Homo sapiens: one gene and its partners. The protein of the gene in region 4 purifies or fractionates together with the protein of the main gene of each other region. This does not show direct contact. Each region holds a gene or a part of one and is shown on either strand. Other genes may lie near its edges.

Region 1 (3,500 bases), on a different chromosome or scaffold from region 4:
CATATGGATATCTAGTTTTCCCAGCATGTCTCTTTTTCAGTGTACATTCTTGGCACCGTTGTCAAAAATCAGGTGGCTGTAAATACGTGGACTTATTTCTGGGTTCTCTATTCTGTTCCATTGGTCTATGTGTCTGTTTTTATACCAATACCATGCAGTTTCAGTTACTCTAGGCTTGTAACATATTTTGAAGTCAGGTAACAATTTTGTTCTTTTTGCCTAGGATTGCTTTGAGTATTTGGGCTCCCTGTGAATTTTAGTATTGTTTTTTCTAGTAATGTGAAAAATATCATTGGTATTTTGATAGGGATTGCATTTAATTGGTAGATTGATTTGGGTAGTATGGTCATTTTAACAATATTAAATCTTTCTGTCGGTGAACATGGGATCTCTTTTCATTTGTTTGTGTCCTCTTTAGTTTCTTTCTTCAGTGTTTTGTAGTTTTCTTTGTAGAGCTCTTTCACTTTTTGGTTAAATTTACTCCTAGATTTTTTTTATAGCTGTTGTAAATGGCATTCATTATTGGTGTACAGAAATCCAGATATCCATATGCAGAAGAATGAAACTAGACCCTATCTCTCACCATATACAAGTCTATCTAATGTATGCTACTGATTTTTGTATGCTGATTGTTGACTTTTCTTCCTGCTTTCCCATTTTCCCTGAGTTACTGAAAGATTAGATGGCTCTTGGAGTTCTAGGAATGCTGTGGTCCCCTTTTCCACAGATTTGTGTTAATAGAAGTTTCCCTTAGTTTTTAGAGCCAAAAGTATCCTAGAGAAAGAACTTTCTTTTTTATCTTAACTTTTCATTCCATATTCATGTCTATATATGGATATAAAAAAACAAAACTGGCCGGGCACAGTGGCTCAAGCCTGTAATCCCTGCACTTTGGGAGGCCAAGGTGGGCAGATCACCTGAGGTCAGGAGTTCAAGACCAGCCTGGCCAACATGATGAAACGCTGTTTCTACTAAAAATACAAAAATTAGCCAGGTGTCATGGTGGCGGGCACATGTAGTCCCAGCTACTCGGGAGGCTGAGACAGCAGAATCGCTGGAACCCAGGAGGCGGAGGCTGCAGTGAGCTGAGATTGTGCCACTGCACTCCAGCCTAGGCGACAGAGCGAGACTCTGTAGTATATGAGACCCATTCTTCTCTGTTCTCCTTTCTGTAAAATGAGCTAGGTTCCTCTCAGTTCCAGGGCATCCCCATCCCAGTCATTTGTTATCATGGGACTTCTCTAATGTGATTCTTCCTCCTTCCTTTTCCTTCTACACAGGCTGGACTCTGTGAAGCTGAGCAGGAGCAGATGCGGAAGATCCTCTACCAGAAAGAGTCTAATTACAACAGGTTAAAGAGGGCCAAGATGGACAAGTCTATGTTTGTCAAGATCAAAACCCTGGGGATCGGTGCCTTTGGAGAAGTGTGCCTTGCTTGTAAGGTGGACACTCACGCCCTGTACGCCATGAAGACCCTAAGGAAAAAGGATGTCCTGAACCGGAATCAGGTGGCCCACGTCAAGGCCGAGAGGGACATCCTGGCCGAGGCAGACAATGAGTGGGTGGTCAAACTCTACTACTCCTTCCAAGACAAAGACAGCCTGTACTTTGTGATGGACTACATCCCTGGTGGGGACATGATGAGCCTGCTGATCCGGATGGAGGTCTTCCCTGAGCACCTGGCCCGGTTCTACATCGCAGAGCTGACTTTGGCCATTGAGAGTGTCCACAAGATGGGCTTCATCCACCGAGACATCAAGCCTGATAACATTTTGATAGATCTGGATGGTCACATTAAACTCACAGATTTCGGCCTCTGCACTGGGTTCAGGTGGACTCACAATTCCAAATATTACCAGAAAGGTATTGTCTGAAGTGTGCCACATGCACTTTCTATGTGTAGATGTCACTAACCCCATTGCAAGCAACTAAATTTCCCATCCTAGTGGCTCCTAATCATTTTGAAATTTTTATCTGTCACTCCATTATTTTATAAATTGGTGTGACATCCTTCCCTTCCAAAAGGAATAGTGTGATATGCATTTTTTTTTAAGGTAGTGGATTTCAGGTTTACTTTTTTTTTTTTTTTTTTTTGAGACAGAGTTTCGCTCTTGTTGCCCAGGCTGGAGTGCAATGGCGTGATCTCGGCTCACTGCAACCTCTGCCTCCTGGGTTCAAGTGATTCTCCTGCCTCCAGCCTCCCGAGTAGCCGGGATTACAGTCACGCACCACCACCTCTGGCTAATTTTGTATTTTTAGTAGAGACGGGGTTTCTCCGTGTTGGTCAGGCTGGTCTCAAACTCCCAACCTCAGGTGATCCGCCTGCCTCCGCCTCCCAAAGTGCTGGGATTACAGGTGTGAGCCACCGTGCCTGGCCTACTATATTTTTAAGACAGTAGGCTACAAGGTGTCACGGGGCCTTTGTGGGGAACCATCACCTGCCTCATTAAAGCAAGCCTTAAAAAATAAAAGATTTGGCTGGGCATGGTGGCTCACGCCTGTAATCCTAGCACTTTGAAAGCCCAAGGTGGGCGGATCACCTGGGGTCAGGAGTTCGAGACCAGCCTGACCAACGTGGAGAAACCCCGTCTCTACTAAAAATAACAAAATTAGCCGGGCGTGGTGATGCATGCCAGTAATCCCAGCTACTGGGAGGCTGAGGCATGAGAATCGCTTGAACCCGGGAAGCAGAGGTTGCGGTGAGCTGAGATCGCGCCATTGCGCCCCAGCCTGGGCAACAAGAGCGAAACTCTGTCTCAAATAAAATAAAATAAATAAAAGAGTCACAGCCTCCCAAGGAGCCCTCTCTTATAGCCAACCTGCATCTATGTAGTGTATCATTGAACTCCATTTCCTATAGTTCTGCCATTTGGAAAAGCCAAAAACAGCTGATTATTATCTTCTTTATGGCTGAGATTCTTGAAGTAGTTATTTTAATATCATCACTTAGTCTTTTTTCTCTAACTCAAAACTAACTCTAAATCATTTAATTCATTCTCATTTTCTGGCATTGAAGTAACCTTTGTTCATGTTGTTTAAATCCTCCTAAGTTTTCCATGCTCATCTTAAAACATGTGTCAGGCAGTTGTTACCTTTTGATTATGGCCTAAGCGCTAGGAGTGCTGTCCCCGCAGTTCTTCCAGCCTCTCCTGCCTGCAGTGCCTTCCTGCCAGCTCAGCACGGTGCATGGTGTCCTGTGATTCTTCACCGTCATTTCTACCTTGGTGCTAGCGCCAACCTCACCACGTGTGTCTCCAAACTAGGAACAGCAGGCTGCCCCTATGGAGCAGCTCAGCGGGGATTCTCTGTCCTGATATGTCAGGAGCTGATTGGAATGACTTTGCTGTTTTAAGCTGTGGATCTGTTGAGTTATTGAAGAGTGAAAATTCACTTTATATTTTGTTCTTTTCTTTCACTATCCCTGATTCCTGGGTGAAGGGAGCCATGTCAGACAGGACAGCATGGAGCCCAGCGACCTCTGGGATGATGTGTCTAACTGT
Region 2 (3,500 bases), on a different chromosome or scaffold from region 4:
GATTTTTTTAGTATGAACTTGAGATGATTTAAGAAAAAAAAATTTCATTTTGTTTTTTGAGATGGAGTCTCACCCTGTCACCCAGGCTAGAGTGCAGTGGCACAATCTCCGCTCACTGCAACCTCCGCCTCCCAGGTTCAAGCAATTCTTCTGCCTCAGCCTCCTGAGTAGCTGGGACTACAGGCACATGCCACCACGCCCAGCTAATTTTTGTATTTTTTAGTAGAGATGAGGTTTCACCTTATTGGCCAGGCTGGTCTCAAACTCCTGACCTCGTGATCCGCCTGTCTCGGCCTCCCAAAGTGCTGGAATTACAGGTGTGAGGCACCGTGCCCGGCCAAAAGATATTTTTTTTTTTTTTAACAAAACAGTTTCTTTAAAGTTAGTAAGCCTCTTCCGATCTGTTTGGTTTCCTTCAGTTCTATGTGTCAGTAACCACAGTCGAAGTTCACATGTATTGGTAAACTCATCCAAAGATTTAAGAGCGTCTATTCCTCCTCCTCTCATTTGGTTGTTTGAGGCTATTAGGTTTGATGGGAAGGCTACGTCTTTAATATGGTCTTAACCACAGAAGCACTAGTTAGCTAAGGGGTTTCAGTGGGCATCTGTGCTCAGTCTTTTAATCCTGCCTCTAGGGGTCTAGGTACAAGCTGCTTTTCCAATCCTTCAAGGCTTTAAATTTCTGAACTTTTTCTATTCTCTTCTGTTTTTGCTTTCAAATCTACTACTTCCTTCTTGAACTCATCATTTACTTATAATACTTGCCAAATATCTAATAGCAGCCAATACTCACTTCCAAAATCCTCTTTACCAAACTCCTATAACACTACAAGGTCAGTAGCCTCTTTGTATGTTCACTGACCTTGTAGTTGTATGAAAAGTTATTATAGGCAACAGCGTTACCAGATATTTTGCCACTATAAAACATGATCCTCCATCTTTCCAGCCTCCGGTATCTGTTTCCTCTCAGCCCTTAATCTGACCACTAAGGCAGTATCACTAAGGCAGGACTGCATAGGTTTTTATTGTAGCAGCACCTCACTTCCAGGTACCAGTTTTCTGTATTAGGATAATGAAACACTGAATATACAGATGGACAATGGCCAGATCATATATAAAACTAGAACTCTGACCCATGACCTATGTAGCAATAGGCCCAGTCAGGACTTGGTCAGTAATTACCAGCTTCCCTAATTTTTGTGCCTTCTTCCAATTCGGGACGACTCAGAGAAAGCCAAATATGCTTCCCAAATCAACCACATAGGATACCCCGCTTCCAGTGTCGACGAAGAGTCAAACTCTGTAAAATATTTTAAGAGATCTATTCTAAGCCAAATATGAATGGCTATTGCCCCATGACACAGCCCTCAGGAGCTCCTGAGAACATGTGCCCAAGGTGATCAGACTACAGCTTGGTTTTATACATTTTAGGGAGACATAAGACATCAATCAGTATATGTAAGATGTACATTGGTTAGGTCCAGAAAGGAAGACACCTTGAAGCAGATGGCTTCCAGGTCATAGGTAGATTCACAGATTTTCTGATTGGCAGTTGGTCGAAAGAGTTGTTACTGTCTAAAGACCTAGAATCAATAGAAGGGAGTATCTAGGTTAAGATAAGGGGTTGTGGGCAGGCACAGTGGCTCACGCCTGTAATCCCAACACCTTGGGAGGCCGAGGCAGGTGGATCACGAGGTCAGGAGTTCAAGACCAGCTTGGCCAACATAGTGAAACCCCATCTCTACTAAAAATACAAAAATTAGCGAGGCATGGTAGCGCACGCCTGTAATCCCAGCTACTCAGGAGGCTGAGGCAGGAGAATCACTTGAAACCGGGAGGCGGAGATTGTGGTGAGCCAAGATCAAGCCACTGCATTCCAACCTGGGCAACAGAGTGAGACTCCATCTAAAAAAAAAAAAAAAAAAAAAAAAAAGATAAGGGGTTGTGGAGACCAGGGTTCCCATTATGCAGATAGAATCAATAGGAAGGAATGTCTGAGCCAAGGTAAGGGGTTGTGGAGACCAAAGTTCCCATTATGTAAAGGAAGCCTCCAGGTGGCAGGCTTCAGAGATAATACATTGTAAATGTTTCTTATCAGGGTTGATTCTCTCCTGGATCAGGCAAAAGGCCTGAGAAAGGAAGGGAATTAACTTCAGAATGTAGATTTTCCGCACAAGAGACAGCTTTGCAGGACTGTTTGAAGATATGGCAAAGAAACATAATTTGGGGTCAAATACTTGGATTTCTTTCAGGGCCTGCCATCTGTCATGTGATACTATGCTAGAGTCAGGCTGGAATTGGGTATCTTATTGCTACAGAGAGTCTGTTTTGTCAGTCTTAAGATTTGTTTTAATGTTAGTGCTGGTCAGCTGTGCCTGAATTCCAACAGGGAGGAGGGAATAATGAGGTATGGCCAAACTCCGCTTCCCATCATGGCTGGAACTAGTTTTTCAGGTTAACTTTCAAATGCTCTTGGCTGGGAGGAGGGGTTCATTCAGATGGTTGAAGGACTTAGAATTTTATTTTTGGTTTACATCAGTTAGCCCACCTCCAGTTTCCCATGCCAACAACCTACAATCAGAGCATACCTGATGTCTTCCCCCTTTTTTTAGTATAAAGATTTCCCACTCCCCTGCTTGCCTTTGAATCTTTGCCAAGCACAAGTTGACAGTGGCTGACTCCCTACCTATATAGTAAGATCTAATTAAATAGCCTTTGTTTGTTTCCATTTGGGCAGTCTTTGTCTATTTTCACAATGTTATTAGGCTGTTTTGTGGTAACAAATCCCCAAATATCAATGGCTTAACACAACAGAAATGTTTCTCTTGCTCAGAGTTCAGTGGGAGTCAGTAGGGTTCTCCATCCAGTGGCTTAGGGATCCACCTTCCTTCCATATTGTCAAGCCACCATCTCAGAATGTAACCTACATTGTCATTAAAGCAGGAAAACCGAAGCAAAGTGACTTTTAACTGCCTCAGTCCAGAATTGAGATATGTTACATCTGCTCATCCAGCTTTGGCCAAATCTGGGAAATGGAGTCGAGTACTGTATGTGAATATAGTCTCTGCCAGAATATATTTACCAAAAGCAATTGGCTAAAGATATACACAATTCCTCCATTTCAGCGTTTTTGAGATCAGAAGATTTAGATTATCTTACAATTGAAATTTTTTTTTTTTTTTTTTTTGAGATCCAGTCTCGCTCTGTCGCCCAGGCTGGAGTGCAGTGGTGCAGTCTCGGCTCACTGCAACCTCTGCCTCTGTGGTTCAAGCGATTCTCCTGCCTCAGCCTTCCGAGTAGCTGGGACTACAGGTGCCTGCCACCACGCTCGGCTAATTTTTGTGTTTTTAGTAGAGACGGGGTTTCACCATATTGACCAGGGTGGTCTTGTACAATTAAAATTGAAATGAATATTCAAATGTAATGCTTCTGTTATTTCCCCTGATAAATGAAGTGACATTGTTTCATGGAAATAATAGTTTCTTTAAAATGAATCCTGT
Region 3 (2,171 bases), on a different chromosome or scaffold from region 4:
CTACCAGCGTCTGGTGCCCTCCCGCAGCCGCATCGTGCGGACGCCCTCCCTGAAGGACAGCCCGGCAGGCCGGGGGCTCAGCAAGGCCGCCGTGTCCGAGGAGCTCAAGTGGTGGCACGAGCGTGCACGCCTCCGGAGCACCCGCCCCCACTCACTGGACCGCCAAGGAGCTTTCCGGGTCAGGAGCCTGCCCCTTGGGAGAGAGGGCTTCGGACGAGCCCTGGGACCCCGGGCACAGGTACGGCTGCTCTGGAGGGACCCCGGGGCCAGGCAGGAGGGCTGTTTTGTTGGGGAGGGGCTGCAATTCTAGTATGTCCAAGGGTACAGAGGCATCAAAGCAGCAACCTAGTGGCCGGGTAATCCCCGTCTAGGAAGAACAGGCCAAAAAATCATTTCCTCTTGGCTTTGGAAGGCACTCTTGGCTTCCCTGGGGCACCTCCTAATTTTGCCTGCCATGTCTAGCTCAAGAGCATATACACTGGTGGAGATGATCCCCGAAGATAGCTGAGACTTTTTCTCTCCCTAAATGATGATGCACAAAGCAGATAAGCCTCTTCATAATCAAAAGTCCAGTCCAAATCAGCCCCTCAGATTTCCATTTGAAGGTCTAGGACAAAGGGAGAGTAGGAAATGAGTTGCAGAAGCCAGAACCTGTGATTTTCTGGGCATCAGCATCCTCCCTGACACCCCTCCTCACCACCAAGCCGAGAAGAAGGGTGGCATCAGAGTTAAGAGCACCCACCCTCAAGCTAGACCACCAGGTTCAAATCCCAGTTCTGCCACTTACGAGCTGTATGATTGGGCAAGTTACTTAACCCCTTTGGACCTAGTGTTTCCTCCCCTGTGAAATGAGAGTAGTAGAGTACCTATCTCATAGGGCTGCCAAGAGGCTGAAATGATTAGAGCAATGCATGGTAAGCGCTAGATATGTGATATTATTATCATCTGGGGCCACAGAGGCCAGGGAGCAGGCTGGAGGGTAGTATATAGGATAGAGCACCCTGACACTGGGTAGGGTGGCAGCCTTGGTTTCCTTGGCCCCTATTTCTTCATTCTGGAAGTGGGGAGCCACACACAGGAATCCTTTCTTTATTCTTTCTCCCTGGTACGGAGGGCTCTGCAGGTGATGTGCTCCAGAAGTTACCAACAAGCTGCTTCTTTGAGACCCCAGATTCCCAGCAGACCCAGCTGCGTGTCCCTCCCCCACCCACGGTTCTTTGGACTGCAGCTGGCATCCTGGGCCTGGCAGCACCCTGGCCCCGGTCCGAGGCCGCGCCCTCCAGCTGACGTGCTTTTCCCTTTCTGCGCGCTTGGGCCTGTCCTTGGCTGGATAGACCCAGCCCATCCCAACGTGCCAGACAGGGAGGGTGATGAGAAGTGAGCCCAGGAAAGGTGGGGGAGGAGGAGGTCAGGGCGCCTGTCACACCCCAAAAGAACATGGAGGAAAATGTGTAAAGGGGGTCCCTGAAGAACAGAGAGCATCCTGGGAGGAAGGGGCTGAGTGCCAGGGCCTGCTGCTGCTGCTGCTTCTGCTGGTCAGTGTCCCTAAGGGATAAGGATGGTGTAACTGTGCCTGCTGTCCCCGCTTTTCTGCCTGGTTCATTTACCCACCTGTCCTTTCTTCCTGACCCTGGCAGGTGCCCACAGTTTGTGTGCTGCGGAGATCGCCTGATGGGGCCCCTGTGCAAGTCTTTGTACCTGAAAAAGGAGAGATCATCAGCCAGGTGTAACTCTGCGCCCCACGCTGGAAAAAACTGTTTCATAGAGGGGCTGGGCTGAGACCCCCCCACCCCTGAGTGCCTCTTTCAGCTCCCCCATCCCCATCGCAGGCCGATGACCTGGAGCTGAGACCTTTTATTATTTTTTTTTTACACGACTTTTTTCAGAAGCCCTGACCTAAGGATTTATATATGTGGATTGTCCTCAATACCCCTGTGATATGATTATGTTTTATCCCCCAGAGTTTGGCCTACTGGACTTAAGGCCTTGCCTGTCTGACTGACAGCCTCTATCTCCTTATATAAGACAAGTGGCAGGGGACGAGTGAAGCAGAGTGAGCCACCTTGGGAGTTCTCCAACGCTCTGTGCTCTGGTTCTAAGAAATTCCCTGGGGAACTGCCCCTGGCCCTCCTGTCCCACTATTGCTGGAGGCTGGACATGGTACATACTCA
Region 4 (4,059 bases):
CTCAGTAACCCAGAAGAAGATGACGGGGGACGGTGGTGTAGACCCGGCTGGAGAGGAGTCCAGGGCCTGGGAGGCGCCCCCTCTGACTGAGGGGCTGGGGACCCTGAAGCTTGGCGTCCAGGCCCCGCCAGCGCTGCACCCGGCATTGTCCCGCCTGGGGCAGGCGTCCGGTCCCTCGGCAGTGCGGGCCAGCACGTACGTAGTAGCTGCTGAATAAATAAATGCCTATGCAACAGGGAACGTCCCGGCCCACCCCGGCCGGGCCAGGGCCTAGGAAGGGCGGGCGTCCGGCGCCGCCGTGGGTCCCTCCGGCGTGGCCGCCCACACCTCCTGGCCACGGCGGGGCTGCGGTGGGGGGACATCCTGGGGCGGGCGGCTGGACGGAAGGGACTAGAGTCGGGGCGCGTCCACGGCCAACCGCCCCGAACCAAGCAGGGGAGGCCAGGGACCAGGAGCTTCCGGGGCCCCGCGGCTGGAGCGCCCGGACGCGAAGGGGCGGCGGGTGACGGGGCGCGGTGCGGGCGGCTACAGGGCCGGACGGGAGTTCCTCCGCTTTCCGCCGCGCGGCTCGCGGTCTCAGCCGAGGTCATCGAGGGCCAGGAGCCCTGGCGGAGGCCCCGCCGTCCCGGACCCACCGACGCACTCCCAGGGCTTGGCGCTTTCCCACCACCCCGGACCGCCCTTGGGGTGCCGGAGGGGCTCGGGGCGCGGCGTGGGGAGCCTTTGTGCCCTCTCCGCTTGTTGAGGTTTTTTCTCCGGAGGAGAGCTCCCCGCCCGCCACCCCTTTCCTCTCGAAAGTTTTGTGGTTTCCCTAGAAGACGAAAGAGGTTGAGAAGGTTGCGGAGACTTTTGCAATCTTCCCCGTCCAGAAACTCTAAAACCTCTCGGCGTTTGGCCCAGGGGAGCTATCTGGGGTCAAGGGGAGGGAGCTGGCCGCACATTCCTTCGCCCGCCTTCCTCCCACCTGGAGCCGCGGCCCCGCGGGGCAGTGCGTCCGAGCTGGTGCGGCGACGCCGGCAGCGGCGGGGTTAAGCTCAGGAATGCGGCGCGAGGAATGCGCATGCAGATGAGGCGGGCGGGCGCATGCTAATCGCATGCAAATGAGGGGCCCGCCGCTGCCGCGGCAGCGCCGCAGCTTCCCGGATCCGAGCCCAGACGGCGGCGGCTCCGGCAGCCTGGGCGCCGCGACCCTCGGCGGCCAGAGGGGGACGGGGCGGAGGAGGAGGAAGAGGCGGAGGCAGCGGCGGCGAGGGGGAGGAGGGTTCGCTCGCCGGCTCCGACGCAGACATGGTGGACTGATCCGCAGCGGGGCCGCGAACAGCGTTTCCTGAGGCACCTCCCGCGCGTGGTTCCGCCGCGCCCCGCGCCCTGCGCCCCTCAGCCCCTCGCCGGCGCCCGCGTCGCGGGTTGGCAGCCTAGCCCGGCAGCCGCGTTCCCGCCGCGTCCCGCGCCCGGTACCTATGGAGGCGCCGCTCGCCGGCGAGGCCGCCGACCATGCCTAGGAGGGCCGGGAGCGGTCAGCTGCCGCTGCCCCGGGGCTGGGAGGAGGCCAGGGACTACGACGGCAAGGTCTTCTACATTGACCACAACACCAGGAGGACCAGCTGGATCGACCCCCGGGACAGGTGGGCGCCGGCCGCGGGGGCGCGGGCCCGTTCGGACACGGCGGCTGTTGTCCCGGAGACCCGGCCGCGCGGGGGGCTGGGGCGGCGCCGGCCCGCGGTGCCCCGAGGGGTCCCGGGAGGGATGTGGGGCTGGCTGCTCCGGCGGGGCCGAGGAGCCGCCCGTACCCGGGCTCCTCCGCCCACCGGCTTCCCGACGCCCCTCCGGGGACCCGGCCCCGAGGCAAGGCTGGAGTCGCTGCCCCGGGCCGACGCCGCGCGCCAGGCTAACGGACCCGAGGGGCCACCTGAGCCCTGTTAGGAACTTCCCTAGGCTTCGAGGTGCCCACGTGGAGGCTGCAGGACACCTTCGGCCTCTGGGCGGCGGGGGTGGGCTAGGGCCTCACTGCCAGTTGGGGAACGAGCCCTCCGGGCCACCTGTGGCATCCCTCAGGCCGTCCTTGGCGCGGGAGCCTGGGCTGCGAGCTCTTGGCGGGGGCGCCCAGACTGGCCGGAGGTCCCGAGCTGGGAAGGGGCTCCCGCCCCCCGCCGGGCCCTGCTAGTGGGTGTGACTGACTTTGCCCCTCAGAGTTTAAAAACGCGCGTTTGGGGGTTTCGCTGTCTGTCGTTAGTCTTCACCTGAAAACTTGAACCGACTCCCAGATCGGGAACAGGCATATTGTGTTTGGAAGGGAGATGTAGTGAAATTAACGTTGGGTATTGAGGCACTCTGATTTGAGCTTAGCCTGGTTTCTTTGTTTTTTGTTTTTTAAATTGGTTCAGGAACTGAAGGTTCACAAATGTTTCTGTGTCCCATATTTTTTTTACCCTTAAAATTTCTTAGAATTATTGTAAGAATAATAGGAGGTATTCCTAATTATAAATTTGTAAATTATCCATTAAGGAGATATTCCTAATTGTAAATTTAAATAACGTGCCACCAGGGATAACTTCGACATTTGGACTTTTGTCATTTCTGAAAATTATAACTTTATTGAATGTGGCCCTTTGGGCTTTATATACTTTTTAGGTGCTTCTCCTATTTAACATTTTCCCTTTTCTCAATTTGAAGCTGAAATACCTAACTACTTTATAATCTCAGTTACTTTTGCCCTAAAAATGTTGTTTTTGAAAGCTACTAAAAGGCAATTACAAGAAAGTTATAAATAACATTATAAATTTATGGAACAATCCTTGTTCAATTATCCGTGAAGCTACGGGCCTAGGTTTCCCTCCTGAAATGAGAAAAGGCACCTGTGCTGAGGTTCGGTCTTGCCGCAGCCTGGCTGCCTGTTGCTGGCCTGATGAAAATTGTGACAGGCATCACACCTTCCCAGTGTCTCCAGACGTGCTAGTTGTTGTCATAAACTTCACGCTCCAAGCCAGTTATTTGACTTATGCTATTGCACTTTGAAACTACTTAACAGATAGTAAATGTCAGTGCTGATGGTGTGCACCCAACTGCGGCTTTTAAGGCACCTGTATAAATATTTGACTTTTACAGTTGTGTGGTAATTCTTTCTGCTTTCTGATACTTGGAGTTTCAGGTAATTGAAATAACAATAAATTCTTGAAATATTTAGGCATTCTAGGTTCTCTTCTTCGGTTTACATGCTTTACTATATTATCTCAGTTGTGTTTACCGGAAAGGATTACAAGAATATGTAATGTCTGGGTAAAGTAAATAGAAAGTGGAGTGAAATTATATGACTTGGCTATCCATATCACTACTTTTTTCACAAGTCAAGCATGTCCTTTATTTTAAACTCTTAATGGATTAGTAATTATTATGAACTATTTTCAGGAAACTGGATAAACAATTCATTGGATAGGGACAAATAGTTTTGACTAAGATAGCTTTTTATTTTTCCAATTTTCCTTGCAGCTGTTAGGTCTTAAATATTCAGAGACATAAATTTGACGACTTACAAATATTTCTGGATCTCAGAGTTTTAAAAGATACTCTGTTGAGATCAGAGTCACCATTATATACTCAGTTTAAATTTGATTATATTTTCTTTTAGGGCAATTAAGTGACTAAATCTTACTAAATAGAGTAAGAGCTGATGGGAACGTATATTTGGAGTAACTATTAACTCCTGTCAGTTTTGTTACACACTTACCAAACATATGGAAAGAGAGATGTTACACAGGCCAATAGGAGTGTGTGGATTCTTCTGCAGGATCAACTTACAAATTCTGAAAGAAAAACAACTTGATATACTATGGGTCTGCAGTACTTTTGAACTGTTTAAGCCATTTAATTAGAATGGTCACGATGATTTACCTTGCATATTTTTTATGTTATTCTGTTAAGGAAAAGAATTTTGTGTTTTTGATAGTCTATCAGAATTTGTTGAATATTTCTGATTATACAGATAATTATGCCGATTTAGTAGGGGAGGCTAGGGCATTTTATAAGAACATAATTTCATTCAACAGGTAGTCATGCCAGAAT

What was found. Proteins that work in one complex are often made in the same cells at the same time.
Region 1: the proteins of WWC2 (region 4) and LATS2 purify together in Homo sapiens (affinity purification with western blotting, with the first as the bait; one study listed by BioGRID). This does not show direct contact.
Region 2: the proteins of WWC2 (region 4) and LATS1 purify together in Homo sapiens (affinity purification with western blotting, with the first as the bait; one study listed by BioGRID). This does not show direct contact.
Region 3: the proteins of WWC2 (region 4) and INAVA purify together in Homo sapiens (co-immunoprecipitation; one large-scale study listed by IntAct). This does not show direct contact.

The regions. Positions count from the first base shown.
Region 1 is NC_000013.11:20,981,587-20,985,086, reverse strand, and holds part of LATS2 (serine/threonine-protein kinase LATS2), read left to right. Parts: intron 1-1,280; coding exon 1,281-1,863; intron 1,864-3,438; coding exon 3,439-3,500. UniProt on the Homo sapiens protein: Negative regulator of YAP1 in the Hippo signaling pathway that plays a pivotal role in organ size control and tumor suppression by restricting proliferation and promoting apoptosis.
Region 2 is NC_000006.12:149,708,102-149,711,601, reverse strand, and holds part of LATS1 (serine/threonine-protein kinase LATS1), read left to right. Parts: intron 1-3,500. UniProt on the Homo sapiens protein: Negative regulator of YAP1 in the Hippo signaling pathway that plays a pivotal role in organ size control and tumor suppression by restricting proliferation and promoting apoptosis.
Region 3 is NC_000001.11:200,911,900-200,914,070, forward strand, and holds part of INAVA (innate immunity activator protein), read left to right. Parts: coding exon 1-238; intron 239-1,637; coding exon 1,638-1,730; 3' UTR 1,731-2,171. UniProt on the Homo sapiens protein: Expressed in peripheral macrophages and intestinal myeloid-derived cells, is required for optimal PRR (pattern recognition receptor)-induced signaling, cytokine secretion, and bacterial clearance.
Region 4 is NC_000004.12:183,097,998-183,102,056, forward strand, and holds the start of WWC2 (protein WWC2), read left to right. Parts: upstream 1-1,259; 5' UTR 1,260-1,494; coding exon 1,495-1,625; intron 1,626-4,059. UniProt on the Homo sapiens protein: Regulator of the Hippo signaling pathway, also known as the Salvador-Warts-Hippo (SWH) pathway.